Linked DNA regions of Homo sapiens: all the other regions are reported to be linked to region 3. The links are microRNA targets in miRTarBase. Many come from high-throughput screens and were not tested one by one. Region 3 holds a microRNA gene; each other region holds the end of a gene's coding sequence.
What was found. Region 3 holds the annotated microRNA hsa-miR-152-3p (UCAGUGCAUGACAGAACUUGG, at 5,047-5,067, shown strand). A microRNA usually pairs through its seed, bases 2 to 8, with sites in the 3' UTR of a target mRNA and lowers its output. Matches are read on the target gene's strand: a 7mer-m8 pairs with bases 2 to 8, a 7mer-A1 pairs with bases 2 to 7 and ends in A, and an 8mer does both.

Region 1 (8,237 bases), not on the chromosome of region 3:
ACAATGAGGCTTACCCCTTGTCTTCATCCATCTGTACTGCCATGATGAAATGTTTTGGACTAATTTTTAAACAATACAATTTTATTTCTCATTGTTCTGGGAGGTCCAAGATCAAGGCACCAGCAGATTCTGGTGAGGTCTCAGTATCTGCTTCAAAGATGCTACCTTCTAGCTGTGTCCTCCTCACATGGCGGAAGAAGCAAGGAAACTACCCCAGGCATTTTTTTTTTTTTTTTTTTTTGCAACCTTGCTCTGTCACCCAGGCTGGAGTGCAGTGGTGCGATCTCGGCTCACTGCAACCTCCGCCTCCTGGGTTGGAGCCATTCTCCTGCCTCAGCCTCCCAAGTAGCTGAGATTACAGGCGTCCGCCACCACGCCCAGCTAATTTTTTGTATTTTTAGTAGAGATGGCATTTCACTGTGTTAGCCAGGACGGTCTCGATCTCCTGACCTCGTGATCCGCCTGCCACGGCATCCCAAAATGCTGGGATTTCAGGCGTTGAGTCACTGTGCCTGGCACCCAGGCCTTTTTTATAAGGGCACTAATCCCATTCAGAGAAAGCAAAGCCCTCATGACCTAATCACCTACCAAAGGCCCCACCTCTTAGTACTATTACCTTGGGTGTTACAACATGTGAATTTGGAGGAACACAGATTTAGATCATACCACCCCTAAATTTAACCTGTGGCAGAAAAATTTTAATTTCTATATTTGAGTTTCTAACGTGTAGTCATATTATCAAAGACATTTAAAGTGCCAATAGCTCTGAATGTATCCATTAGCTTTAACATATCAGAAAAATGATTGGAAAATATGTAACATAAAACAAAATTCTGCTTTAAATTAGCTCTTTCTGGCTTTTTTTTTTTTTTTTTTTTTTTTTTGAGACAGAGTTTTGCTCCTGTTGCCCAGACTGGAGCGCAGTGGCATTATCTCGGCTCACCGCAACCTCCGCCTCCTGGGTTCAAGCGATTCTCCTGTCTCAGCCTCCCAAGTAACTAGGATTACAGTCATGTGCCACCATGCCTGGCTAATTTTGTATTTTTAGTAGATGGGGGTTTCTCCGTGTTGGTCAGGCTGGTCTCGAACTTCCGACCTCAGGTGATCGGCCCGCCTCCGCCTCCCAAAGTGCTTGGATTATAGGCATGAGCCACAGCGCCGGCCTCTGGCTATTACTTCTATAAGTGGAGGACATGATTCTTCAAATTACAAATGTGAATTGTCACTTTTATGGTTTCATTGAATCCTCAGTCTATTATAACAAGGGTCGGCAAACTTTTTTGTAAAAGACCAGATAGTAAATATTTTAGATGTTGTAGGTAATATGTAAACAAATGAGTGTAACTGTGTTCAAGTAACTTTATTTAGAAACAATGAAATGTGACTTTAATATAATTTTCCTGTGTTATGCAATAATCTATGGATTTTTAAAAACCTTCTACAACTGTAAATTCCATTTTTTGCTCACAGGCCTTTCAAGGGAGATTTTTAAAAAAGATTAAAATGCATAAAACTGAATTTTATGATTGGCCAGGTGTGGTGGCTCAGCACTTTTGGAGGCTGAGGCAGGAGGATCACTTGGGCCTGGGAATTCAGTACCAGCCTGGGCAACATAATGAGACGCTGTCTCTGCAAAAACTAAAAAATCAGCCTGACATGGTGCATGCCTGTAGTCCCAGATCTGTGGGAGACTGAGTGGGGAGGATGGCTTGAGCCCAGCCCACCCGAGGCTGCAGTGGGCCATAACTGTACCACTGCACTCCAGCCTGGGAAATAGCCGCAGACCAGATTTGGTCCATGAACCATAGTTTTTCAATGTATTATAAAATCAATTAAGAAATGGTAGTTTTTTGTAATCCCAGCACTTTGGGAAGCCAAGGAAGGAGAATCACCTGAGGTCAGGAGTTCGAGACCAACCTGGCCAACATGGCGAAACCCTGTCTCTATTAGTAAAGTACAAAGATTAGCTGGGTGTGGTGGCAGGTGCCTGTAATCCCAGCTACTCAGGAGGCTGAGGCAGGAGAATTGCTTGAACCTGAGAGGCAGAGGTTGCAGTGAGCAGAGATCGCGCCACTGCACTCCAGCCTAGGCGACAAGATTGAGACTCCGTCTCAAAAAAAAAAAAAAGTAGTTTTTCCTGGTCTTTATAGGCTAATTCAATATACGAGACAAAGAATCATCATCGACATCAAGGAACACAGTGCTTATGACATTCTTTATTCAATTCACATAGAAAAGCATGCAGTATTAATGTAAAACAGTACAATATTAATGTAAAATGTTCAGTGCACATTAAACAGCATACATACCCATTTTTAAAGACCTATATAGGCATACCAAATACGTTTAGAACAATACACTTTTTCAGAGCCTAAATTAAAAATTGTGCTTACCTCTTACCTATCTTCACCCCCTCAACACTCTTCACAGAAAAGTTTTGTCCTACATAAAAGATATTCTATCAGCCAACTGAAACCTCTTTTTCTTAAGTATGGAAAACACAGCAAGCAAAAATGCTACCATGCATAGTTTCCACAAAGAACAGGAACATGCAAACAAGAAACATACTACTCAAAAGAAAACTCCCCTGGAATGCAAGTGGATCAAGAACTTGGCGATGAGCTCTTTCAAACCTGTTACATCTGGAACAATGAAGCTATGATGTTTTAGGTTCCTCTAAACCCAAGTGCTCCATGCCTTCTTTCCATAGTATGCTAAATTTCTGATTTTACACACATACACACACACGCAGAGGAGAAAATGTAAGCTACCTAACATAAAACAAATGTCTTCATATAGAAAATGTTTTCTTTCATACTAGCAGAACATTTTCACAAAACTGGACAAAACACAATGCTAAAAAATGCAAACATATACATAAAACCTAAAAAAAGAAAGTAAATCAATATTGGACTAAGGCTAGAGTGCTATTTCTCCATCATGGCCCTGCAGAAAAACTAGGCCATCACTAAACATAAATAAAAAGGGACAGGTAAAATAATTTCCACCCTGGGAAAAGCTTAAACTCAAGTGTCTTATTGAGCAGTGTATAGACAACACTAAAAGTTTTATTTAAGAAATCCAAGTTCTGAAGACAAGTGGGGCTTATCAACAGGCCACTGTATCTAACAGTTAAATAACATTTTTTAAAAAAACAATGTATATCCAACCGAGATACATATCAAATTCAGTAAAAAAACAAAACCAAAAACAAAACCAACCAACCAACCAACCCCAAAACACAAAAATAACCTCCTCCCTAACTTCTCTGGTCACAAAGACTCCCAAATAAAAATGAAAAGAACAAAGTCTTTTCAAAATGAACAATAAGTATTCTGGGTACAGGTTAATCCACCATCCTGACTTGATACTTGACTAAAGATTATCAATTCCAATTTGTATAGAACTTTTATGAGGAAAAAAGGTAACTTTAACAACTTTTCTATTTCTCTCAGGACAAAACCACAAATGACACCTTTCTAATGAGTCAACTTTTAGTTGCTTTTGATGGGCTGGCACTGGAAAGGCTGCTCTGGATTTTTCTTTTTGTTGATTGATTCACATTTTTATTCCTCTTTTCAGGCACAAAGGAAGTAGACCAAGGAGACTGAAGGTGGTTATGAAGACTGTGCATCTCTGAGGACATCTTAAACAAAGATGACCCAAATCTTTGATCTTCAAATAGTCGATGTGAACTGCTTAACAAAATGCCCTGGGAAAACTCTGTCTGAAACAAGCAGCTTGGGGGTTTGATTTCATTAGTTACTGGACAAGAACTGGAATGGAGTGAAAAATCTTCATTCATTTCTTGGTCAGATGGAGAGAGGAGAAAAAAAGAAGTGGGTTTCCATTCACTTCCATTTTCTAACTGATCATTAGTTAGAGAACCTTTGGAAAGGTTTAGCTCAGTTTTTTCTTCCAACTTATCAGGTTCCTCAAGAAATTCACTGCCTTGAGATGACTTTGATAACCCATCCAAATCCAGTGACTTAAAACCGTTATTACAAGGGCTCTTGCTGTTGTCTGACTCTGACATCATTGAATCCAACTCAGAGATTTTGTCAAGGTAAGCAGCATCCATCGATGCTTCACTGGATGTTCTTGTCCGGTTCATTTCAAAAGAGCGAATAGAATTCAACCTTTTGGATAAACATAAGCCTGATTTCTCACTCAATTTTGAAGATATTTCTCCAACAGAATTTGCTATCGTGTTCCCCTCTGAACTTTCAAAATCTAAGTTTTGGGCATAGCTTGTGGAACAACAGTCCCAAAATCCTGTCTTTGGGGAAGAAAAACATTCTGATTTCTTTTCATTTTCACTTCTACTTATATCATCTTCTGAAGAATCTTTATTAGAAACATTTGAAGAATCACAAAAATCATCAAACACCAATTTTCTGAGATGGTTTGAGTGCTTTTTGGAACCTCCTGCTTGGACCACAGAGCTCTCTCTATTTTCTGGAGTACTGAGCTGAAGGCAACTAAGGGACAAAGGAGTACAAGGAGCTGGAAGATCATAAAGTTCTTCATCTTTGTAGGGTACACAGTCACTTGGTTTATTCCCCCATTCTCTTTCCAAATAAGTATCCATACTTGTATCTGTCACATCTAACATTACTTCTACCTGTTCTTGATATAGGTCTTTGTTCTTAGAACAGTTAAGGTCTGCTTTGCTGGTACTTTCCTGCCTTGCAGAACTGGTGTCACACAGTCTGCTGCTGGAAGGCTTCGCTAGGTGAGAAGAACTGGAGGTGGATGAGCCAGGCTGCTTTCTGGCACTATCGCCTTGATTCTTTGACACCACATCCTCCTCACTGCCTTTGCTCCCTTTGCCATCTGCAGAAAGTGCTGTCTGGCAAATGGAATTCATAGCTTCTTTCTCTTCACTTGAATTTTTTAGCTGTGCAACTTGAGATTCTAGTTCCTCTATATACTTATCACTTCGTTCCAGGGCTTTCTTGAGGCGATTGGTTTCACGCTCATACTGTTCTACTTTGGACTGAAGAGCAGCAACTGCAAACCTTCCAAACCTACAAAGAATGGAAAGATAGTTAATCTTATAACTCAAGCTTTTTTCTTTTCAAGGTTTGAGAGTGCAAACTGTCCCAGGCTATTCTAATTTCACCTAACAGTGACATTTCAGACCACTCAATGAGTAGGGCAAATGCCAGATGTATATTTTCAAAAAATGGTTTCCCCACTTACATAATAATAAACATATGATAATAATAGCAAAACCTAATAGGATATTTTTGTGGTTAAATCAGATCTATGGTAGCAGAGAGGCAGAAATGTGCTGATGATTTCCCCTCGAAGAGCTGGCTGTATCAATTCAGCTCATATATGCATGAAGAGTTATCCCCTAAAACAATGGCAAAGATTTATGATAACATTTGAACAGTGGTCTACATCTTGAAATATTTACATTCAATCATTTTCCTATCATACAGCAGTGTTTTACAATACATTTCTTATATAATGTCACCTTGTCAAACATAAAATGCCAATTTGAAATTCAGAAATCTTAGCAGTCCCAGGAGGGGTGGTTTTAAATACTTATTTGGGCCCTTTCAATTATAGCCACCCTTGATCTGAAGCTTTTCTGTGGCTTTTCAGAGCACTGGCCTTTAATTTATGTCAGCACTACTTATTTTTGGCATTTTACAGCTGTGTGGGACATCTATCTCATTTCTTTCAACTTTGAAATATGAAGTCAGTGCTTGTGATTCCAATATACTAGGCAAAAAAAAAAATTTTTTTGTACACTTTCTGAAAGAGAACATTTTGGAGAGTGACTGAAAAAGAATTCCCTTATTCACAAAAAGTCTACTCCTTTTACACCGGGATTATCTTGCTGTTATTTCCACCAAGAATGAGTACTGTGTTAAGCTCAGGAAACAATTTTTGAGTACCTAGTATAGGTTAGGTGGTATATTTGGGGCTGGGAACACAAAAGATAAAAAAGACTGTCTAGCTCCAAGGGACATAAAATATCTACCTTAAATTCAATCTTATCACCAAAAATAAATTCTATCTTTCAGGAAACTTATGAGCCAATAAATAACATAATCCCGTGAAAAATACCTTATCTCCTCCAAAATTCTTTTCAAAGCCTATTCTTAATCATCTTTTTGATGATTTATATATTGGCCCATTTCTAAGAATTAAGGGATTGTCTGTTTGGAGGAAGCTATGAGAAGGTGACTTTCAAAAATTATTTTTATCTTTGGGTTTATCTTTTTCTTCCTTTTTTCCCCTAATTTGAAAAATAATTACAATTAAGAACATGTATTTAGTATTGAAAAAAAAAACTACAAAAAAAGCAGAAGCCAATAGCAATTGCCCCTCTTAGAATCAACCACAACATGTTTTCAACTCCCACTTAATGCCCATCACCTCCTAAACCACTAGCCCAATTCATTCCCCATCTCAACCCCTACATAATCCCTGCACTCTTATCACTGAAGGAAAAAGCAGAGGCAAAGGTAAATATAGAATCATAAAATCTCAAGATTAGAAAGGGCTTTAAAAGACATGATTGCTGAATATTGATTTACTCACTGCAATTAACTGAACCCCCAGAGAGAGCACGCTCCCTTCAACTTCTAAAAAAACACAGCAAAAACCACAGGTATAACAAAAACAAAAGCAACTATAATAACAAGCCTCCCCATTTTAAAGACAAAGTTTACTACTGTATTTGGTTAAATGAATGATGGGAATTTTTCTTCTTTGTTAAAAATGTTTTGGCTTATAAATGTAGTACTTCACAGAGTTGTAGTTCTGCAAGAGAACTTTTAAAAAGTGGGCAAAGACCTTTCAGTACATTAAGTACAAATGTTTGTTAGTTCTTGATTGTAACTACTCTGGCATAATCAAATAACCCACATTTTTAAATGGAAAAACTGTAGTATGTTTATTTAATGCCAATAAGCAAAAGTGACAGCCTTACATTTGCTTATCAAGATAAATTTCTTCAAGTAAAATTTTTTATAATAAAGGTATCTCCTCAGATAAAAAAATCAAATGACTTAAAATCAAATAATGCTACTACATAGTAAGTCAGTTGCTACCAAAGGATATCTTTGGGAACTTAGAGGCCTACACACAGAAAGACTACTCAAAAATAAAGAATGCTTCCCAAAATATTACCAGCTTCTTGTTCCAGGGTTTTAGCTTGGAATTTCAAATATAGTATCATCTTAAGATACTGTATTTGCCTCTCTCTCTCTATATATTTTTTTTTTTTAGAAATTATGTTTTTAAAAGAAGTAACATATGGTTTGGAGTTGAAGTCAATGAGAGCCCTAAACATAATTTTTGTGTTATTTCAGAGAGAAGTAACAAAGGCCAGTAGCAGATCACATATGAGAGGCACAAGCAAGCAGAAGTCACTGATGGAGTTAGGCTGTTTTCTAAAAGGCCACTGCCCCCAATTTCCTTAAGTTTCCTTTCAATACTCTATAAATCTATAATACTTTCAGTGATCAGGCCCTTCTCCCATGCTAATAAGGGACCTGTGCTGGTTGGCAGACTGACAGAAATGTATACTAAAAGCCATGCAACTGATCAATTAATCAATTCATGTAATTTATTTGCTTTCTTTCTCCCACGTTAGAATAGAAGCTCAAGGAGAGCAGGTAGTTTGTCTTATATTCACTGCCAGATTCCTAGAACAATTCCTGGTATACGGCACTTGCCTGTTGTGTATTTCTTGAATAAAAGTCATTCTCTTACTTTAAGATACACTAGTGCCTTACATTGAGACAGGGTTGACACCACAGGATAAGCTAAAGGTCCTTGGCCTTCTTTTTACATGTTAAGTATTATGACAGTCACTGTATTACTAAAGTAAACATGTTTTGTTTACTACATTTGACTGTTTACTTTATTTCACTGACACCCAGGAAAGCAACAGAGACTGACATATGTACAGTACAGCCTTTTTTGCTACAGGCTTGACATTCTATACTGCTCCACCCCAAAAAACTTCACCTTAGTAAGACTGCAAATAGATGAGACTTTTGACATGTGTCAGGAAATTTTCAGCTTATCCAAGATAACTATATTAAATTTGGCAAAGGGCAATTTACCTTATTATAGAGAAATAACAATTAGGGATAAGTATCTGATGCTATACTTCCATAGAAGAAGGACATGAGCTTATTTATCTTTGGGTTTTAATACTTTTGTATTCACACTAATTCTAGATATTTGGAGTATACAACACTAAATGA
Region 2 (8,640 bases), not on the chromosome of region 3:
TTTGGGGTCCTCGCAGATCTCATCAGGCAGACAAGCCCATACTCCAGCAATATTGGGTGGAGAGATGAGTGGGAAACGGGCGGGGCTGGAAGTGAGTCATCCTTGGCTAAGTGTGATAAAGTAGGTCCCCAATCAGCCAGAGACACCAGATAATGCCTTTTCATTGCTGGAGAGAGAATCTGTGACTCACTTGGCATTTTGTGGGTTACATCTTTCAGAATGTTTCTGTCACTGGCTGCATTCGAAGCTCAGAAGTAAACTTTAAGATAAGTCTTTATACATTTGATTATGTTACATTTGAAACACATTTGTTTTATTTTTTAGAAAGGTTTCCTTAAATTAGTCACAACAGGAAATATACTCTTTTTCTTGCAAATATTTTTAATTCTTGATCTCAGAGTCAGTCTTTAGCTACTGAAGATATAGGAATTCAGCAGACATCTAGTCCTTATGCTAATAACAGTAATAATGATTATTATAATACTATCAAACACATATAAAGTTTATTTTATCATGCCTGTAATCTCGGAACTTTGGGAGGCCATGGTGGGAGGATTGAGCTCAGGAGTTCCAGATCAGCCTGGGCAACATAATGAGACCTTATCTCTACTAAAATTGTAAAAAATTAGCTGGCAGTGGTAGCGTGCACCTGTAGTCCCAGCTACTCGAGAGGCTGAGGCTGAAGGATCAGTTGAGCTCAAGAGGTTGAGGCTGCTATGAACTATGATCACACCACTGCACTCTGACCTCAGTGACAGAGTGAGAGTCTGTCTCTAAAAAAATAAAAATGAAAAGTAAAGTTTATTCTATATCAGGCACAGTGTTAAGTGCTTTACAGATACTAACTCATTTAATCCTCACAACAACTCTCTGAAGTTACAGCTTTTATTTTCTCCATTTATAGGTGAAGAAACTGAGGCATGGAGAGGTTAGAGACTTTCTCAAGGTCACAGAGCTGGTAAATGGTGGAGCTGGGATTCAAACCCAGGCAGCATGCATATAGAGTCTATACTCTCAACCTATAACATCAGCAGTAATCAATTTTGTTGGGATAAACCATCCACTATATTCCTGTTTTGGAAGGGAATCCATGATACACTGCTGAACTTTTTCATAAAAAAAAAAAGAAATCAGGTAACAATGAGAACAATATGGTTTTATCCTTTTAAATAAATATATGTGTTTGTGTGTGCGGTTGGGTTGGAGGAAGAGCAGGAGGGAAGGGGGAGGGGGAGAGATAGCAGATTTGAATGTGGCTAGGACAAGGAGGTCTGGAGGAAATCATAATCACAGTAGTTATTTTGGGGAAGTGGGAGTTGTATAGGTAATTTCACTTTTTACTTTACATACTTATATATTGTTTTAATTTTTAAAAGCATGTGATAAAACACATACACACACGCACACACTCCAAGGAACTGGCAGGCATCAGCTATGTAAGACTAATGAAGAACTAATTAAGCTCTCACCTATAATTACTGACACAGCATGTGGCTGGGATTTCTGCAATCCTGAGAGAAAAGACCAGGTTCTCCCGTGCTTTCAGGCCTAAAAGCAGTGACTCTCACATAGTAGGTACTCAGTAAATGTTGTTTGTGGTGATATGGTATTGGAAAGTATGTTGTTTGAATCACATCCTTTTATTCTCTCAGACTCTGGGGTCATTATAAACTCCGCCAAGTTTTCAATACTTAGGAAATTTTGATCTGCTCTCTCGTTCCAGGGCTGACCAACTTTTTCTTTGGGGGGCAAGAAAATAAGTATTTTAGGCTTTTGGGGCCATAAGATCTCTGTTGCAACGACTCCTGCCACTGTTGCATGAGAGCAGCCAGGGAAAATATGCAAAGAAATGGGCGTGCTGTGTTCCAATAATACTATATTTACAAAAGCAGGCAGAGGGCTGCATTTGGCCCCAGGACAGTAGTTTTTGGACCCTGCTCTAGCTGCTCAGAACAGTGCCATTTGTACTGAGAAACAGCTCATTTGCTTTGTTTTCAGGATAGTTTTCTCCTGAAGTTCTGAGGGCTTTGCCCATTTGTGAAGGTCTGAGGGATGTACCTTGGAAATTGTGAGGTGTTGATCAAATTCCTTGGACACTTAAAACTGTCAGGCGGCCTCATTCTTGCCAAGTGAGAGATTTGAGTTGCCTTATTCCACAGTCCCAGAGGGTTACTTTCAGAGTCAGCATACTCTGTGTTTTTGCTAGAACTTTCTACAAAGTACTCGGCTTTTGTTTCTTTGCTTGGTTCAATCTCTAGAGAAGACAAGAGAGAAGAAACTTCCAGTCCACCTCTGATGGCCATTTGTGCAAAAGGAATATGCTGTCTCCCCTTTCCCAACTTTCAGTGTCAAAAGCAGTGTCTTCAGGTCAATGAATGCAAGAAAGCTGTGGGTTGCACATCGCCAACCTGGAATATTCTGTGGTTCTCTTCTGTGACTCAGACCCAGCATGCAAGTTTTATGCTTCTTTTTACCCCCGTACTCCACCCATGGAAGGAAACCATCCTTCCCATTGTGACAGCTTTATTAGACCCATCACCCAAAGGTAGTTCTGGTTGTACTTGGTTATCACCCCTATTGAGAATCCTAATTAAGTCCTGAGGAACCGAGCCAATTCGTTGTTTCTTCATTTTAGCTCCTCCCTGGGCTGCCTCAATAGCTCATTTCCTTAGCAGGTTTCCTATCTTTTCTCCACTACAGTTAGAGCGCCCTGCTCTCCATGAGTACCTACCCTCCTCAGGGGAAAAGGGAACCAAACTTTATTTCTGAAATATTTCAAGTTCTTGGACTTTATGTTCCTGTTCACAGATCCTCCCAAGGGGGTGTAGGATCTTTATACAATCAGGCCCTTTGGCAGCCCAAATATTGATCAAGAAGCAGTTGACAGGCAAAACCATGTAAGCTGATATGGTTAGACTTTTTGTCCCCACCCAAATCTCATCTTGAATTGTAATCCCCATAATCCCCATGTGTCAAGGGAGAGACCAGGTGGAGGTGATTGAATCATGAGGGTGGTTTCCCCTTTGCTGTTCTTGTGATAGTGAGTTCTCACGAGATCTGATGGTTTTATAAGGGGCTCTTCCCCCTTCACTCAGCACTTCTCCTTCCTGCCACCTTGTGAAGAAGATGCCTTGCTTTTCCTTCACTTTCTGCCATGATTGTGAGTTTCCTGAGGCCTCCTCAACCATGCAGAACTGTGAGTCAATTAAACCTCTTTCCTTTATAAATTACCCAGTCTCAGGCAGTTCTTTATAGCAGTATGAAAATGGACTTATACAATACATATGAATAGTTTACAGGCTAAGGCTACTTAACTACATCTCCAACCAAATTTGTAGCTTTCTTCCTCTAACCCCTTGGGACTGACATTTAAAGTCTCTTTGGAAAAGCGCAAGGACAAATCATACCCCACTCCCCCATAGTGCTAACTATAAGAGTTTGTTTGAAAAAATGTGCACATTTTGTGTTTGGGACTTTAAAAACCAATACATTAATGCTTACATTTAAACTCTACCCTGTGGATAGAAGGGAGAATGAAGAGCACCATTGTGGGTTGGACACGCTTGTACAAAAAACATGGACTCCCAGAAGGAATCACCCCAAATTAAGGCCATTTTAGTGTGAGGGATTAGAATGGGCCATCTAATTTTCATACCTGGCTGCCAAGAGGATAAAAGGAAATGTCTTGTTGAAAAAAATTCTGTTCTGGTTTGTGAGATCACAATGTCTAGCAGCTGCAAATCTTGAAATTATGAGATTACTCAGAGCCTGTAATTTAAACTTTATTTCATATCTATTGTTAAATTACACAAAATCAGTGAATGGTTTGTAAAGCTACACCAATGGACAGATGTTTACAGTTGAAATCATGGGATTTACATAATGGCAAAAATGTATATGTATATTTATAACATCCTCTATATACAATAATCAGTATAGACAGAGAAAATGCACTTAATCTTTGCAAATCATGCACACCACAGCAATAACACAAAATGTTTTTTCTGTAACAAGCTTTTCCACTGGCTCAGGCTTCATCCTGCTTTCCAACAATACCTATCAGTTTTAAAAGCAAACATTTTCAATTAAAACTAAAGAAAATTGAAATACCATAGTGATCTACTAACTATTTTAAAAACACAATTGTACACAAAATAGTTTTACTCTAAAACACTGTGACTTCAAGGTGTGGAAAAATTCCTTTCAGTTTTTTAGCTCTCAGGATTTTCAAGACTGCAATACTGTCAGACAAAACAAAAGCTAGAAATACTGATACAAGCTCAGAGTCAAGAAAATCTATTTTAAACCCAAATACCCAGCTTCTTGTCCAGTTTGTGGCTATATTACTACAGATGAAACACATGAGCAGATTGTACAAGATGTGACTTTATGGTCACACTTCTAAGCATGTCCCTTGTGAAAACATAAATGCCACTTTCAGTCACCTTGTTTGATTTACAGCCAGGAGGTTAGTGTAAGTCCTTGCATAAGTATAGCAAAATCCACAGTAAAATGAAAACTGCCCGGAATCATGATGCTTGACAGCACAGTGGGTTACATACTTCTTTTTATCTTGGTCAGCTTGTAATAGGTACCATAGAAGTATTTTTGCATCGACTTACACTACCAAATTACTCTGCTCAACTCATATGTTCCTGATATGTAACCTCACTACAGAACACTTTTTACTTTTGCTCTTTTCAAAACAAAAACTTTGTAGAAGGGTTTGCCCACATTATCAAGGTGCTATTGAATAACTGGCTAGCCTTCCTAATGCTTATTTTATCCTTTTTTGGCTTTTGTAATTGTCTACAAATCTGTCAACATGAAAAAGAACTAAAGGGCTAGAAATAGTTGGCCCAACTGGAAACATTACAATAGAGATGTACAAAAAGTAAGTAAGAGTTCACATTTTAGGTTAAATTCTATCTGATCAAGAATAACTTCAGCAATATTTTTAGACACATTATCCTGTTCAAGTTTCTTGATTAGGACCTCACTACACAAATATTGATAAAATAATTCTATAGAAAGAAAGTCCTGACTTTAATCCAGGATTATATACCACAATAACTTCAGCAACACACCATTTAGATGATGAAGAAAGATTCTATACATGGGTTAATTTGGAATGAGCACAATTCAGAGAAGCCTTAAAATGAATGAGAAGCAGCGCCAAAATGATTCCAGTATTGTTGAAATTACAGTGCCCTGAAAGCGCCTGGAAATTAGATCTTTACATTGGTATTTCATTTTGAAAAAAAGGTGTTTTGTTTAATGTGAGATACACCCTGTGTAAAACCTTTAAACAGTAGAAGGTAGAAAAAGTTTAAAATTTTAAACATCTCTTAAATATCAAGATATGAGTCCTGTTCTTGAAAAGCCAATATTTTGACATAAAACTACCCATGTTTGGAGAGGAATTTTTTATTTTCTACAGCTCGGTAAGATTCACCATCAGTTGTTATTCTATTTAAATAGATTCCTTGTTAAAATCAGAAGAAAATAAAAGGTTTTATGTTTCATTTTAGTTGCTTTATGTTTATACTTATTCTCACCCCTGGAAAAAATATTTGATTCCAAGATTGGGTTTTAACAGTGTATCATGAATAATTTAAAGTCCATTTCTTAGCCATAAGTTAAATGGTCACATTTTATGTTTTCACTTTGTCTCCATAACTAATTTAAGAACTTCTTAAAATATCTAAACAGCAATTTCTGGTGAGTCTGGTTTGGCTTTCGGATTTCATATTTAGTCCAACCCCAAAAAGACAATTTAATTCCATATTGAGATTTGTTTTACCTACACACAGTATAACACTGAATTGAAAGGCAACTGTAAAGGCAACATCTAAACTTTTTTTTAAAACTTCCCCAATGAAGGAAGCAGGATGTGTTTGGACACTTTCATCTTTTAAGCTATGCCATCTTTTCAGTGGCGCTTTGGGAGAAGTATGTACAGGCCTTTTTGAGCCATTTAACGCCATTTCTCTACACTGCCTATGTAGTCGTTGGTGCCATTGCTGGTGTTATCATTCTGCTCCTTGCCTGAGTTCTGCTTCGGGCTTTCCCGGTTCTCCTTCTGGCTCAAACTCTGAGTCAGATTCTGCATCAGATTCTGAGTCAGGTTCTGATTGGCATTCGGATTTGGGTTCTGACTCTGATTCTGATTCGGATTCTGGCTCTGGCCCTGACCCTGGCTCTGGAAATGGGTCTGAAGGAGCCTTCCCTTCAGAAATTTGCGTTGTTCCTGACGCTTTCGCCTGGCCTCCTGATGCTCTTTCTGCCTCATAAACTGATACCTCTGCAAAAAAAGGTCTTTGGCATAGCTGTACAACTCCATATCCAGAAAATTCAGTCCCTCAATACGCTTTTGAATTTCCTCATTGATCTCTACACTAGAGGCCCTAGTGGTATTATACTGGGTAAATGGCGAAATAAAGTTCATGTTGAAGGTTTTCTCAAACAGATATTGGGTCTTCCGCTGAAACTCAGTGAGGCCGAAGAACGCCATGTGCTTCAGATTTGACTTGGCACTTTCCAGAAGGACCTTGTTTCTTTGCTTTTCAGGCATGACAGAGAGGTTGTAGCAGCCTACCAGGGTCAGGTCGGAGAGCATGCGCACCTGGCGGTTGTTGGCTAGATTGTAGGGACAGTCCATAAACTCTTTGAGGGGGCAGCCAGACCAGTCATCGCCAGTGTAGCAGCTGGGCAGCTCTTCGGAGGTTGGAGGCCTTCCATCGCAGACATGCAGGGATGCTTTCCATGTTGCCCCTCTCTGGACATGCCTCCACTCACTCAAGTACCGGGACACTGGGTCTCGGAGGATGGTGATGTAGTGGAAGTTCCTATGGATGAAGCACAAAAACCAACAGTCAGAGATATGGGCGAAATAAGTGGAGTCATGGAGGTACATGGCATATGTGGTGTTCACTGGCTAAAAAGGAAGGCAAAGCAAAAATGACAGGGATCTGATGGCATTTGTCCTGTAAACTGTACTGCAGTCCCCTCTCTGAGTCTCACTAGCCTAGAGATAGCTAATTTTTTCAACCAATTTGCTGATACTTCAGCTAAAACAGGTATGAAAAGGTTAGATTCCAGACATTGACCTTGTCATGCTTCACTCCCGTTCGTTCCCCCTTCCCCTCTTTTTCTCCCTCTCTAACCAAAGACAAAATCTTCCCAATGACACCATTGGCTAACTAGGCAACCACTTTATTTCATGCCCCCCACTCTAAACCATTTAGTGATCATGAAATGGAGACTCATTGGAAGCACATACTTTATTGGAGTGAAATGGAGTTGACAAGTGGGTTCAAATTCGAATCTTATTAAATATGCAATAGCATTTTTTCTAATATCCAGTCTAATCTGCATATCTTTTTGTTTTTAAAAAACTCATTAAAAGAGTGTATGATATGATACTCTTGATTCTGGCTGTTGTCATATTATGGCTCATACATTATGGAAGTGGAATGTAGAGATAGGCAGAGTAGCCCAGGGCCTCCAGCAATAAACGCTGTGGTTAGTCACTGACTGAAATAGACATGGTAGCTGCCAATGGCATGTATGCAAGCTACTACCTTGGTTTCCACCTTTGCTCCTATGATAATATTCCCAGGATAGGAAACTTAACTCTATCAGCAGCTTCAAAATGTCCCTTTTCCTTATCTACTAAAAGGGCACGTGGATGTCAGCAAGTGTGGAGGCTTTGCTGTATGGCTGTCTTCTCTTTAGGGCTTCAAACAAAGTTCTTTGCTCAAATAGCAGACTAGCAAACATTTAAACCACATGTTAACACACTCACACCATACATGGTAGGCACACGCCCCAGAAACATCAAGTCCATGATACAATCAGGCATACTTAAGGAGAGAACCGTGTCATTGTGCTTTTCATGAGAAATGGGTTACCACTCAGGTACAGAAGATGAAGGACGAGGCCACAGAAGGGCATATTGTGGAAAGAAAGCAACAATAAACATTGAATATTAGCATTTAGCTTCTTAAAGGAAACCCGGAGAATGGCTTGCAACTTTTCTGAAATATTCATTCCCATCTGAGGGAGTGGTTGTTCTCTACACATACATGAGGAGCCACAGGGAACCTGCTCAGCCACCTGCTTAACTGAATATTGGCTGATGTTCATTGAGGAAACGTTTCTCCCAACTGGGGCTTCCATCACCTCAGGCATCCTGAAATCTATCTCCTATGCCTCTATCCTGTACATGGTGCTTGCTCTGCCTGCCATGATCTTCCCTCTTTGGCTGGAAAATTCTACTCATCCTTCAATACCAGTTCAAGTACCATCTCTTTTGTGAAAAAATGTACCCCACTCTGTGTTGCCAGTTATCATTTCTTCCTCTGTGTTGCCATAGCACTTCTATACTTAGCCTTTGTTAAAATATTTGTGATACTGGGGCTGGGCACGGTGGCTCATGCCTGTAATCCCAGCAGTTTGGGAGGCTGAGGTGGGTGGGTTGCTTGAGGTAAGGAGTTTGAGACCAGCCTGGACAACACGGTGAAACCCCATCTGTTAAAAATACAAAAATTAGCCAGGTGTGGTTGTGCGCTCCCGTAATCCTAGCTACTCAGGAGGCTGAGGCACGAGAATCACTTGAACCCAGGAGACGGAGGTTGC
Region 3 (7,117 bases):
AATCGCCTGAACCTGGGAGGCGGAGATTGCAGTGAGCCAATATCACCCCATTGCACTCCAGCCTGGGCAACAAGAGTGAAACTCCTTCTCAAAAAAAAGAAAAAAAGAAAAAGAAAAAGCAACAACAGTGATAGATGTGGGGGTGATGAGAACTTTGTGGTTCCTAAGCTTCCTTCCCCAGCCTTCTCTCATTCCTATCCCCTTGGCCCCTCTCCAGTGCCTTCCCATCCCTAACGTGTATAACTGACTCCTTCCCCACCTCCCCTATGGAGCCAGCCCCCTAAGTCCCCTATCTTCCCAGGTCTTCCTCTGTCCCTTCTGGAGGCTGCTGGTCTTTCATAGTGGGTACCATAGCCAAACAGAGGCTGAGAAATGCTCCTGGAGGCTTTTTGGTGCTGTCCTTGTAAATATGAGCCAAAAAAAAAAAAAAAATGGACTAGCTCACAGAAATATTAAGACATCAAAATAACCAAATCAGTATTTTTTAGAAATAACATACCCAGCCAGCATGACCATTGACATAACTTCTGATGATCTGGAATCCGAAGAAATAAAATGCCCAAATGCTGGGTCTTTTCCCTGGCTGCTGTTATCAAATAGTGTCATTATGTTCCCTATTATAACTGATAGCCTGCAAGAAAGGTTCAGATGTGCCTTCTAAGTCATCATATAGGGAGGGTCAGTAGATGCTTCCTCAGATGTCTGCATGGCCTGCTTCCTCCTTTCCTTTAGCTCTTTGTTCAAATGTCACCTTGTTAAAGGTTTTCTCAGAGGACTATGAAAATGGCTTTCTGGCTTGCCTGTCCCTTACCCCTCACATTCCACATCCCATTTCTGCTCTATTTTTCTTTGCAGCACTTATCCCCAACTCATATAATATCTACTTTTCCCATTTATTTGTGTATTATATCTTGCACAGAAACGCACGCATGTACATACACAAACACTTGATTGTAAGTTCCATGAGAGCAAAATTTTTCTTTTGTCTACTATTGTGTCCCAGTGGCTAGAAAAATATCTGGTACATACTAAGCACTCAATAAATATTTGTACAGCACATAAAATATGTTGTCTTTTTTTTTTTTTTTTTTTTGGAGATAGAGTCTTGCTCTGTTGCTGAGGCTGCAGTGGTGTGATCTTGGCTCACTACAGCCTCTGCCTCCTGGGTGCAAATGATTCTCCTGCCTTCACCTCCCAAGTAGCTGGGACTACAGGCACTCGCCACCATGCCTGGCTGATTTTTGTGTGTTTTTAGTAGAATCAGGGTTTCACCATGTTGGCCAGGCTGGTCTCGAACTCCTGGTCTCAAGTGATCTGCCCGCCTTGGCCTCTCAAAGTGCTGGGATTACAGGTATGAGCCACCACACCCAGCCAATATGGTATCATTGATAGGTACATTTTAATTATTATTAGTTAAAATTTGGTATTTGTGAATATTTATACATGATCTCCCTCATCCTGAATTCCTTTATTCATTTACTTCACAAATGCTTATTAAATATCTGTCATCGGCCAGGTGCAGTGGCTCATGCCTGTAATCCCAGCACTTTGGGAGGCCGAGGCAAGCAGATCACAAGGTCAAGAGATCGAGACCATCCTGGCCAACATGGTGAAACCCTGTCTCTACTAAAAATACAAAAATTAGCTGGGCGTGGTGGTGTGCACCTGTAGTCCCAACTACTCGGGAGGCTGAGGCAGGAGAATCACTGGAACCCGTGAGGCGGAGGTTGCAGTGAGCCGAGATCTCGCCACTGCACTCCAGCCTGGTGACGGAGCAAGACTCCGTCTCAAAAAAAAAAAAAAAAAATCTGTCACCAAGCCTTGTAAGAAACACTAGGGATTCCACAGTGAACAAGACAAACATAATTGGCCAGGTGAGGTGGGTCACACCTGTAATCTCAGGGCTTTGGGAGGCCGAGGCAGGAGGAGGGCTTGATCCCAGGAGTTCAAGACCTGCCTGGACAACACAGCAAGACCCTGCCTTTAAAAAAAATAATAATAAATAACCAGGCATGGTGGCACGTGTGTATCGTCCCACCTACTCAGGAGACTGAGACAGGAGAATGGCTTGATCCTGGGAGTTGTTTGTGTGTGTGTGTGTGTGTGGGTGGGTGGGTGGGTAGCAGGTTCTCGCTCTCTTGGCCAGGCTGGAGTGCTGTAGTGCGGTCTCGGGTCACTGCAACCTCCACCTCCCAGGTTCAAGTGATTCTCCTGCCTCAGCCTCCCGAGTAGCTGGGATTACAGGCACCTGCCACCACCCCCGGCTAATTTTTTTGTATTTTTAGTAGAGATGGGGTTTCACCATGTTGGCCAGGCTGGTCTCAAACTCCTGACCTCGTGATCCGCCTGTCTCGGCCTTCCAAAGAGCTGGAATTACAGGCGTGAGCCACCGTGCCCGGCCGACACTGGGAATTTGAGGCTGCGGTGAACTATGATCACACCACTGTACTCCAGCCTGGGTGATAGAGCAAGACCCTGTCTCAAAACAAAAAAACAAACAAACAAAAAGTCACATTCATTGGTTCTTGCAGGGCTCAAAGTCTGGGCGGGGAGAAGGAACACTTATAAACAAACTAGTAAAGGCTGGGAATGGTGGTTCACGCCTGTATCCCAACACTTTGGGAGGCTGAGGTGGGAGGATCACTTGAGCCTAGGCGTTCAAGACCAGCCTGGGCAACATAGTGAGACCTTGATCATGATCACCCTCCTCCCCCTCCTCCTCCTCTTCCTTTCTTTTTCTCTTCTTCTTCTTCTTCTTTTTTTTTTTTTTGAAACAGATTCTCACTCCCATTGCCCAGGCTGGAGCACAGTGGCATGATCATGGCTCTGCAGCCTTGAACCCCCAGACTCGGGTGATTCTCCCACCTCAGCCTTCTGAGTAGCTGGGACTACAGGTCACACCACCCTACCTGGCTAATTTCTTTGTAGTTTTAGTAGAGACTAGATCTTACCATGTTGCCCAGGCTGGTCTGGAACTCCTGGGCTCAAGCCTTCTGCCCACCTCAGCCTCCCAAAGTGCTGGGATTACAGATGTGAGCCATTGAGCCCAGACTTGAGACCTTGTTTCTACAAAAATAAAAAAAATAAAAAAATAAAAAATTACCTGGGAGTGGTTGCATGCACCAGTGGTCCCAGCTACTCGGGAGACTGAGATGGGAGGATTGCCTGAGCCCAGGAGGTTGAGGCTGCAGTGAGCCCAGATCGAGTCACTGCACTCCAGCCTGGGCAACAGAGTGAGACCGTGTCTCAAACAAGCAATATTAGTAAAAATAATATTTAGAGATTGAAAAAAGTGCAATGAAAGAAAGAAATAGGAACTGAGAGAATGTGACAGGAGAGACCTATCAAGTCAGATATGGTGGCTGTCAGGAGGACCTTTTGGTAATTATATTTCAGCAGAGGCTTGAAGATAAGAAGACTTGATGCATTCAGTGAGGAAAACCCCATTCTGTAACCATCTAGGGTAAGTGACTGTGGTCCACAACATAAGAGGGCTTGAAGAGAAGAATAGGGAAGAAATTTTGAGTCAAAAATCTGGGTTCTATCCCCAGTCAACTAGCTGTATAGTCTTGAAAAGGTCACACAACCTCTGAGTCTCTCTTTGCTTAAAATGAGGGTCCATTATGCCTATCTTACAGGTGTGGGCTATATTAGATAATGGATGTGAAGGTGTCAAATGTAAAATACACGCACAGTGTTTTTACCGGTAAATGCATACGTAGCACTAACATATCACTGGGATGTGAATTTCCCACTTGCCAGTGTACCCTGAAATGAGAGCTTGTCTTAGTTAGACTTAGACCAAAGAAACCAAAACATGCTGCAAAGCCCGATGTCATTGGTGGAGCATTTGTGCTGCTGGGCGTCTGTCTTGCTTCTGATGGTGCCATATCTGTGACTTAGGAGAGCCTGGGGAGGTGTCTCCGGGCCCATGGTTGCCTTCTGCAAGTAGTGAGAGAGGAATGAGAAAGCCTCTTCACAGAGGGGTGTCCCCAGAACTGTCCTCATTTGCTCTTGCTTATAGACCCTGTCCCTGAGATCTAAAGGGTGACCTGACGTATTTGTCCTCATGGTACCTACCAGAGGTCAACAGACAAAAGTGGGCTTTGCTTGTGTTTGCTGCTGGCCCCAGGACAGCCTATAGACACTGGCGCACACCAAAGCCACAGGCCGGAGAGCAGGCAGGAAGCAGGACGAGGGCTGGTCTTGGGGCACCCTGAGGATGCAGAGTTCGGGGATGTAAGGGACTCGGGAAGGAGCCAAGGAGGAGAGAGGGAGAGGAGAAGTGGGGGAAGGAGAGGTGGGGTGAGGGCGGGAGGGGAGATGGGGGAGAACGAGCAAGAGGACGGGGCCCCGAGGAAAGGGAGGCCACGCGCGAGAGGGGGCCGCGGGGCGGCGCGGAGGCGGGGCGGCGGCGGCGGGCAGGCGGCGGGCGGCGCTGTCAGTGCGAGGCGGCGAGCGGAATGCAGCGGCCCGAGGCCTGGCCACGTCCGCACCCGGGGGAGGGGGCCGCGGCGGCCCAGGCCGGGGGCCCGGCGCCGCCTGCTCGAGCCGGGGAGCCCTCGGGGCTGCGGGTACGGAGCGGGCGGGCGCGGGGATCCCGGGCGGCGGGAGCTGGGCAGGGACAGAGCAGGGTTAGGGGGAGCAGCCAACTCAGAACTCGCGCGCCCGGCGGCTGGGAACTTTGTGTCACCCCTGACTGGCCCCAGGACCCGGGAGGAAAAGTTCGTCCCAGCGCCGACCGGAGAGGAGGCCTGTCCTGAGTCCGTCGGCGCGGGGCTGAAGTTCTGGGTCCGTTTGGAGTGGGGGTGGCGGGTGAGTTGCGATTCCGCGGGGAGGGTAAGGAGTGGCCTGTCCGTCCCAGACTCGGCTCCCATCACCGGTGGGTGATGGGCATGCTTCTGGAGTCTACCCGGGCCAGGGCCTGGGGGCGCGCTGATAGCGCAGGTCCAGCCCGGCCAGGGATCAGCTGGAAGAAGGAGGCTCGGCCCGCTGTCCCCCCCGGCCCAGGTTCTGTGATACACTCCGACTCGGGCTCTGGAGCAGTCAGTGCATGACAGAACTTGGGCCCGGAAGGACCTTCTGCACCCAACGGGCACAGCGCCCACTCGGGGCCTGCAGTGGAACATCTGCCTGGGAGTGGAGTGGGCACCTGGGTTGGCCCATGTGGCACAGGGCTGGGCAGAACCAGCTGTGGACCTTGAGGACTGGGGTTGCTGGGGCCTGAGGATGTATCCTAGGGCCAGCAGATCCCATAGACACAGGGTGTCCACCTCGAGTCAGGGGCCAAACGGAACTCTCCTCTCCGGTGTCAGTTGCAGGAACCTTCCCTCTACACCATCAAGGCTGTTTTCATCCTAGATAATGACGGGCGCCGGCTGCTGGCCAAGGTAACCTCTGACCCCACCCATGAGGGACACAGTTCCCACTCAGCTGACACTCCTGTCTCAGGAGAAACTCCACTGTGATCTCTGTGACTCAGGGCAGCTCAGCTTAGACCCCTCCAGAGGTCCTTCTCATCCTCCTGCCTTGTCAAGGTGCTGCTCCCTGAAATGAGGGGTCTCCTCTATTTCTACTCATGTTCCCTGAAATGTTTCCTTATCATCCTGCTACTGGCCAGTTGGACCTGGGCATGGGAAGGTTCTGCCTAATGGGTCAGTGGAGTGTTGAGCCTGGGACCCAGGAGTCTTAGTCCCCAAACCCCCACACAAGTTCTTTTGTTCTTTGGGGTTTGTCTCTAAACCTCCACTTTTGTTCTACAGCTTGGTAAACACTAACGATTTAGTCTAAGGAGTCTAAGGATTTAGAACCAGATGGGATTTTAGAAACTGTATAATCCAACTCTTTAATTTCGTAGATGAAGAAAATGAGGGGTAGAGAAGCTAAGTGAGTTGCCTGAGGTCACAAGTATTAATATCCTAACAGATCCAAACTCAAATTTTATTTATTTACTTATTTAATTTTTTCACTTCTCCCATTTCACAGGTTTCACAGGCAAACTCGGGTTTTTTGACATGAAGCTCAAGGTGGTTTTCACTGTACCCCCATTCAATTAGCTGTTATCTATCCTAGCAAACATGGCCTGAGCGAACCAAACTAAAATAATCCAAAAATAAATTTCTGCTGTCAACACAATTAATTGTAGGGGAGCTATAGCATCTGCATTAGCTATGAAATGCATTATAAGGCCAGGTGTGATGGCTCATGCCTGTAATCCCAGCACTTTGGGAGGCCAAGGCGGGCAGATCACTTGAGGTCAGGAGTTCGAAACCAGCCTGGACAACATGGTGAAACCCTGTCTCTACTAAAAATACAAAGAATTAGCCAGGCATGGTGGTGGGCGCCTGTAATCCCAGCTACTCGAGAGGCTGAGGCAGGAGAATTGCTTGAACCTGGGAGGCAGAGGTTGCAGTGAGCCGAGATCACACCATTGCACTCCAGCCTGGGCAACAAGAGCGAAACTCTGTCTCAAAAAAAAAAAAAAAAAGAAAAGAAAAAGAAAAGAAATGTGTTGTAAGGCCAGGCGCAGTGGCTGATGCCTGTAATCCCAGTACTTTGGGAGGCCGAGGCGGGTGGACTGCTTGAGCCCAGGAGTGCCAGACCAGCCTGGGCAACATGGCACACCCCATCTCTACAAAAAACAAAACAAAACAAAAACAAAAAACAAAAAAACGAAAATTAGCCGGGCGTGGTGGTGTGTGCCTGTAGTCCCACCTACTCGGGAGGCTGAAGTGGGAGGATTGCCTGAGCCCGAGAGGTTGAGGCTGCAGTGAGCCATGATCGAGCTACTGCACTCCAATCTGGGTTATAGAGTGAGACCCCATCCCAAAAAATAGATTTTCTGTTTGTTTATTTGGAACTGAAAGTTTTTTGTTTTTATGAAATTCAAATAAGCAGCGGCCACTAGGGAGATGGCTAATCTGCCTGCGGATTGAGTATTAAGTGGCAAAATCCACATCCAGAAAATTGAAAACTGAGCTGACCACACCTTGCCCCAGCAGATGGTCAGAGGTGGATCAGCAAGGCCAAAGGCTTTTCCTCCCTACAGATTAAGAAACTGAGTCAGAGAGAGAGGCTCACCATTCCCAAACAAAAAACATTAATTTAGTTATGGGAT
Region 4 (4,000 bases), not on the chromosome of region 3:
AGTTGATTCCTTAGACTCAGGAAATAATCCCAGGTTACAAAAGCATCCTAATTTTGCTTTTTCTGTTTCAAGTGTGAATTCACTAAGCAACACAATATTTCTTGGAGAATTAAGCCTCATATTAAATCAAGGAGAATGCAGTTCTCCTGACATACAAAACTCAGTAGAGGAGGAAACCACCATGCTTTTGGAAAATGATTCACCCAGTGAAACTATTCCAGAACAGACCCTGCTTCCTGATGAATTTGTCTCCTGTTTGGGGATCGTGAATGAGGAGTTGCCATCTATTAATACTTATTTTCCACAAAATATTTTGGAAAGCCACTTCAATAGGATTTCACTCTTGGAAAAGTAGAGCTGTGTGGTCAAAATCAATATGAGAAAGCTGCCTTGCAATCTGAACTTGGGTTTTCCCTGCAATAGAAATTGAATTCTGCCTCTTTTTGAAAAAAATGTATTCACATACAAATCTTCACATGGACACATGTTTTCATTTCCCTTGGATAAATACCTAGGTAGGGGATTGCTGGGCCATATGATAAGCATATGTTTCAGTTCTACCAATCTTGTTTCCAGAGTAGTGACATTTCTGTGCTCCTACCATCACCATGTAAGAATTCCCGGGAGCTCCATGCCTTTTTAATTTTAGCCATTCTTCTGCCTCATTTCTTAAAATTAGAGAATTAAGGTCCCGAAGGTGGAACATGCTTCATGGTCACACATACAGGCACAAAAACAGCATTATGTGGACGCCTCATGTATTTTTTATAGAGTCAACTATTTCCTCTTTATTTTCCCTCATTGAAAGATGCAAAACAGCTCTCTATTGTGTACAGAAAGGGTAAATAATGCAAAATACCTGGTAGTAAAATAAATGCTGAAAATTTTCCTTTAAAATAGAATCATTAGGCCAGGCGTGGTGGCTCATGCTTGTAATCCCAGCACTTTGGTAGGCTGAGGTAGGTGGATCACCTGAGGTCAGGAGTTCGAGTCCAGCCTGGCCAATATGCTGAAACCCTGTCTCTACTAAAATTACAAAAATTAGCCGGCCATGGTGGCAGGTGCTTGTAATCCCAGCTACTTGGGAGGCTGAGGCAGGAGAATCACTTGAACCAGGAAGGCAGAGGTTGCACTGAGCTGAGATTGTGCCACTGCACTCCAGCCTGGGCAACAAGAGCAAAACTCTGTCTGGAAAAAAAAAAAAAAAAAAAAAAAAAGAATAACTAATACTTGCTTGCAAAGGGAGAGGCAAGTTTAATTTTCATTTTATCACTTAAAATTCTCTTGAGTAGATAAAAATATAGCCCCAAATGACAAAATAAGTGAAGAATAGAAACAGAAGAGAAGTTAGTCGTTTGCTGTATTATTTTTTTCCCCTACTCTCCAGGTATTAGGGATTTGATCTTAGTGTGATTTGGGACTAACAGCGCTGTGAAACAATAATGTGTGGAATCATGGGTTGCTGTCTTCACTTAAGTCAAGAGTGATGGCCTTGTTTTCCTGTGGCATAGTTGGGATATTATTTATACTATAATAGAACCTATGAGAGGTAACAGATGCAGGATCAGCAAGACGTAATTTTTTGTTTACAAACCAGATATATGTTAGAAAATTATTGTTAAAACAGGTATCTGTTCAGTACCTGTTTTGATGGCAAATACTTGCTGAACCTACCATTGCCCCATATCCCATGTCTCCTGCAGATATCACCAGCCAATCAGAACAGGCCTTTCTACTGAGCTGTACAAGTGCCCTCAGAAGCCTCCCAAGCAGTGTTCCTTATGGCCACAATCCATAAGGACTGGAGTAGGAGATTAAATCTATCTACCAATGATGTCAATATGGAAAAGTGGTTGATCTTTAAAAATGAAATACATATTTTAAGCTGAGAAATGTTACCCAGCAGACTATTGTGATTAATATTTATGGGCAAGGACAACTTTTCTGAATGATCAGAACAGTTTAAAATAGGGTAGAGTAGGGCATGTAAATTCATGCCTATAGTCCTAGCTACTCAGGAGGCTGAGGCGGAAGGAACACTTGAGCCCAAGAGTTAGACACTGCAGTGCGCTATGATCAATGATCATGTGCCAGAGCAAGACCCCGTCTCTAAAAAATAAATAAATATTCGTTCATTCATTCATTAAAATAGGTAGATTACACACTGAATTTCTTTTTCTCCTCCAACAGTTGTCAATTTATACTCATATTTAGTCATTTAATTTTATTATGAAAAATCAAGCAGTTAATTTTAAAAAGACTCATTGCTTACTATGTCTTTAGCAAATGAGCAGGCTATTTTGTTTTACTTTTTTTTTTTTTGATAAAAATCTAAAAGCAATTTTATGGTCATTAAGTATCCTTGAAATGAGGTTGACTGTATATCCCAGTTTGCCCTGGTTTCTGTCCATTGTCCTATTGTTAATTATGACCAATAACTGCCCTCATTCACTCTCAGAAGCATCCCTTATTTGGATAATAAATCATATGGTCACTCAAGACTACTTAATGTCCAGCATGTAAGTAATTCATCAGAAATTTATCTTTTTTTTTTTTTTTGCACTGACAATCCTCTTTATTTTACTTTTTATCATTTACTAAGGCCATTTTGCTCCAAAAGGGTATTACTATTCATACTGTAAAAAAAAGTATCCCCTGATACTTTTACATAGTGTAAAAAAAAAAAAAAGTTATCCCCCAGATAAACTCTATTCTGTTTATCCTAAAATATGTATATATTTTTTGTACTTTGCATATTCTGAAAGGAATATATTTTAAATCACTAATGAAATGCTAATCTTAAATACCTTGACTTGTAAATTGCCGTATGCCTTTGCTTGATTCTTTTGCAAAAGGAGAATCATAAAGTAGCCAAGAAGGAGGTAGCATTTGAGATTGAAATAACAAAAGACTAAGATAAATCTTTGATGTTTGCAAACCTGATGAAGACGTCTGGTAACATGTGAAGAATATTTTTATAGTACGTTTCACCATAATTGTAATCTATCACACATGAAAAAAGCTTTTATCAAGCTTAAAGGATTACAGCATTGTTTGATCTTCTGCAAATGTTTCCACTGCAGCGAGTGCCTCCTTTTCGCCCCCTAGAGTGGGAAGGAAGCTGCTTTCTCATTCTGTGGTGTCTTAACCCACATCACTATTCAGCACAAAGGAGACACTTCTGATTCTGTCTTTGCCATTAGCCCTTGTTGGTCCCAATGGACTAGAAATTGAGGCTATACCTGCAATGGGAGCAATGTACCTGCCTTTGTCCCAACTCAGGGGAAAAATTCAAGCTGCTTTATCACAATGCAAACTTCGCGGGGGAGAAAGGGTTTCTTTCTATAATTCTTGTATTCAAGAAGGATTCATTGAACTACTGAATGTCCTTACTGTTATATGTGCAAGGCCATTTGAAGGATATGGATTTAACAAAACCAGTCAATCCCTGCAGGCTTGGGGCTTATATCCTAGGGGGAAGAGACAGACAGTAAATTAGGACAAGTCATTGCCCCCAAGGAGCTTACATTTTAGTAGGGGAAGAGGCCAGAGGTAGGGGGTGGAGAGAGGCAGAAAAAAATAAAGGAAAATGTCAGATAATAAGTGCTGTCTAGAGAGGTAAAATGGGATAATGTGGTGGATAGCAAATCGGTGGCCACTTTACACTGGGTGGTCAGGAAAGACCACTCCCAGGAAGTGATACTGATGTTCATCTGAGTCTCAGGTAAGAGCCAGCTTGCCACTGACAAATCCTTCTATAGAGAAAGCCTTGAGTGGCTAATGTCTTTACTTCTTTCCCTCCCGTACAACTTGCCACTGATTATCTTCCACCCTGACCACTCCCCACCTCCCATCTTAACCTTCTTAAGCCAGAATTTTCTGCAGATTCTGAGGACAAGTGCATACCTATTCATCTTTCTATCTAGCTCTTGTGTCTATTATTAACTTTCTTTCTCTGAGTCTCACAATCTTTTAAGTCGCTGATTCCTAAAGGGGCATG

Region 1: miRTarBase lists OBI1 as a target of hsa-miR-152-3p. Seed matches in the 3' UTR shown: 8mer at 2,283-2,290.
Region 2: the mRNA of HS6ST2 is a reported target of hsa-miR-152-3p. The part of its 3' UTR that is shown has no 7-base or 8-base seed match.
Region 4: the mRNA of IL23R is a reported target of hsa-miR-152-3p. Seed matches in the 3' UTR shown: 8mer at 1,129-1,136.

The regions. Positions count from the first base shown.
Region 1 is chr13:78,612,093-78,620,329 of GRCh38, forward strand. OBI1 (ORC ubiquitin ligase 1) reads right to left here. Exons shown (of 6, transcript NM_024546.4): 6 at 2,197-5,030. The coding sequence ends at 3,488. It overlaps OBI1-AS1 (OBI1 antisense RNA 1), which reads left to right. Exons shown (of 6, transcript NR_047001.1): 6 at 3,583-5,233. Among named protein-coding and RNA genes, the nearest start is that of POU4F1, 13 kb to the left of the region's middle.
Region 2 is chrX:132,622,246-132,630,885 of GRCh38, forward strand. HS6ST2 (heparan sulfate 6-O-sulfotransferase 2) reads right to left here. Exons shown (of 5, transcript NM_001394073.1): 5 at 3,770-6,848. The coding sequence ends at 5,978. Among named protein-coding and RNA genes, the nearest start is that of HS6ST2-AS1, 41 kb to the right of the region's middle.
Region 3 is chr17:48,035,124-48,042,240 of GRCh38, reverse strand. MIR152 (microRNA 152) reads left to right here and starts at 4,994; the gene lies at 4,994-5,080. It overlaps COPZ2 (coat protein complex I subunit zeta 2), which reads left to right and starts at 4,444. Exons shown (of 9, transcript NM_016429.4): 1 at 4,444-4,574; 2 at 5,316-5,390. The coding sequence starts at 4,464. RefSeq lists an enhancer at 3,278-3,327.
Region 4 is chr1:67,258,774-67,262,773 of GRCh38, forward strand. It overlaps IL23R (interleukin 23 receptor), which reads left to right. Exons shown (of 11, transcript NM_144701.3): 11 at 1-1,206. The coding sequence ends at 355. Among named protein-coding and RNA genes, the nearest start is that of IL12RB2, 47 kb to the right of the region's middle.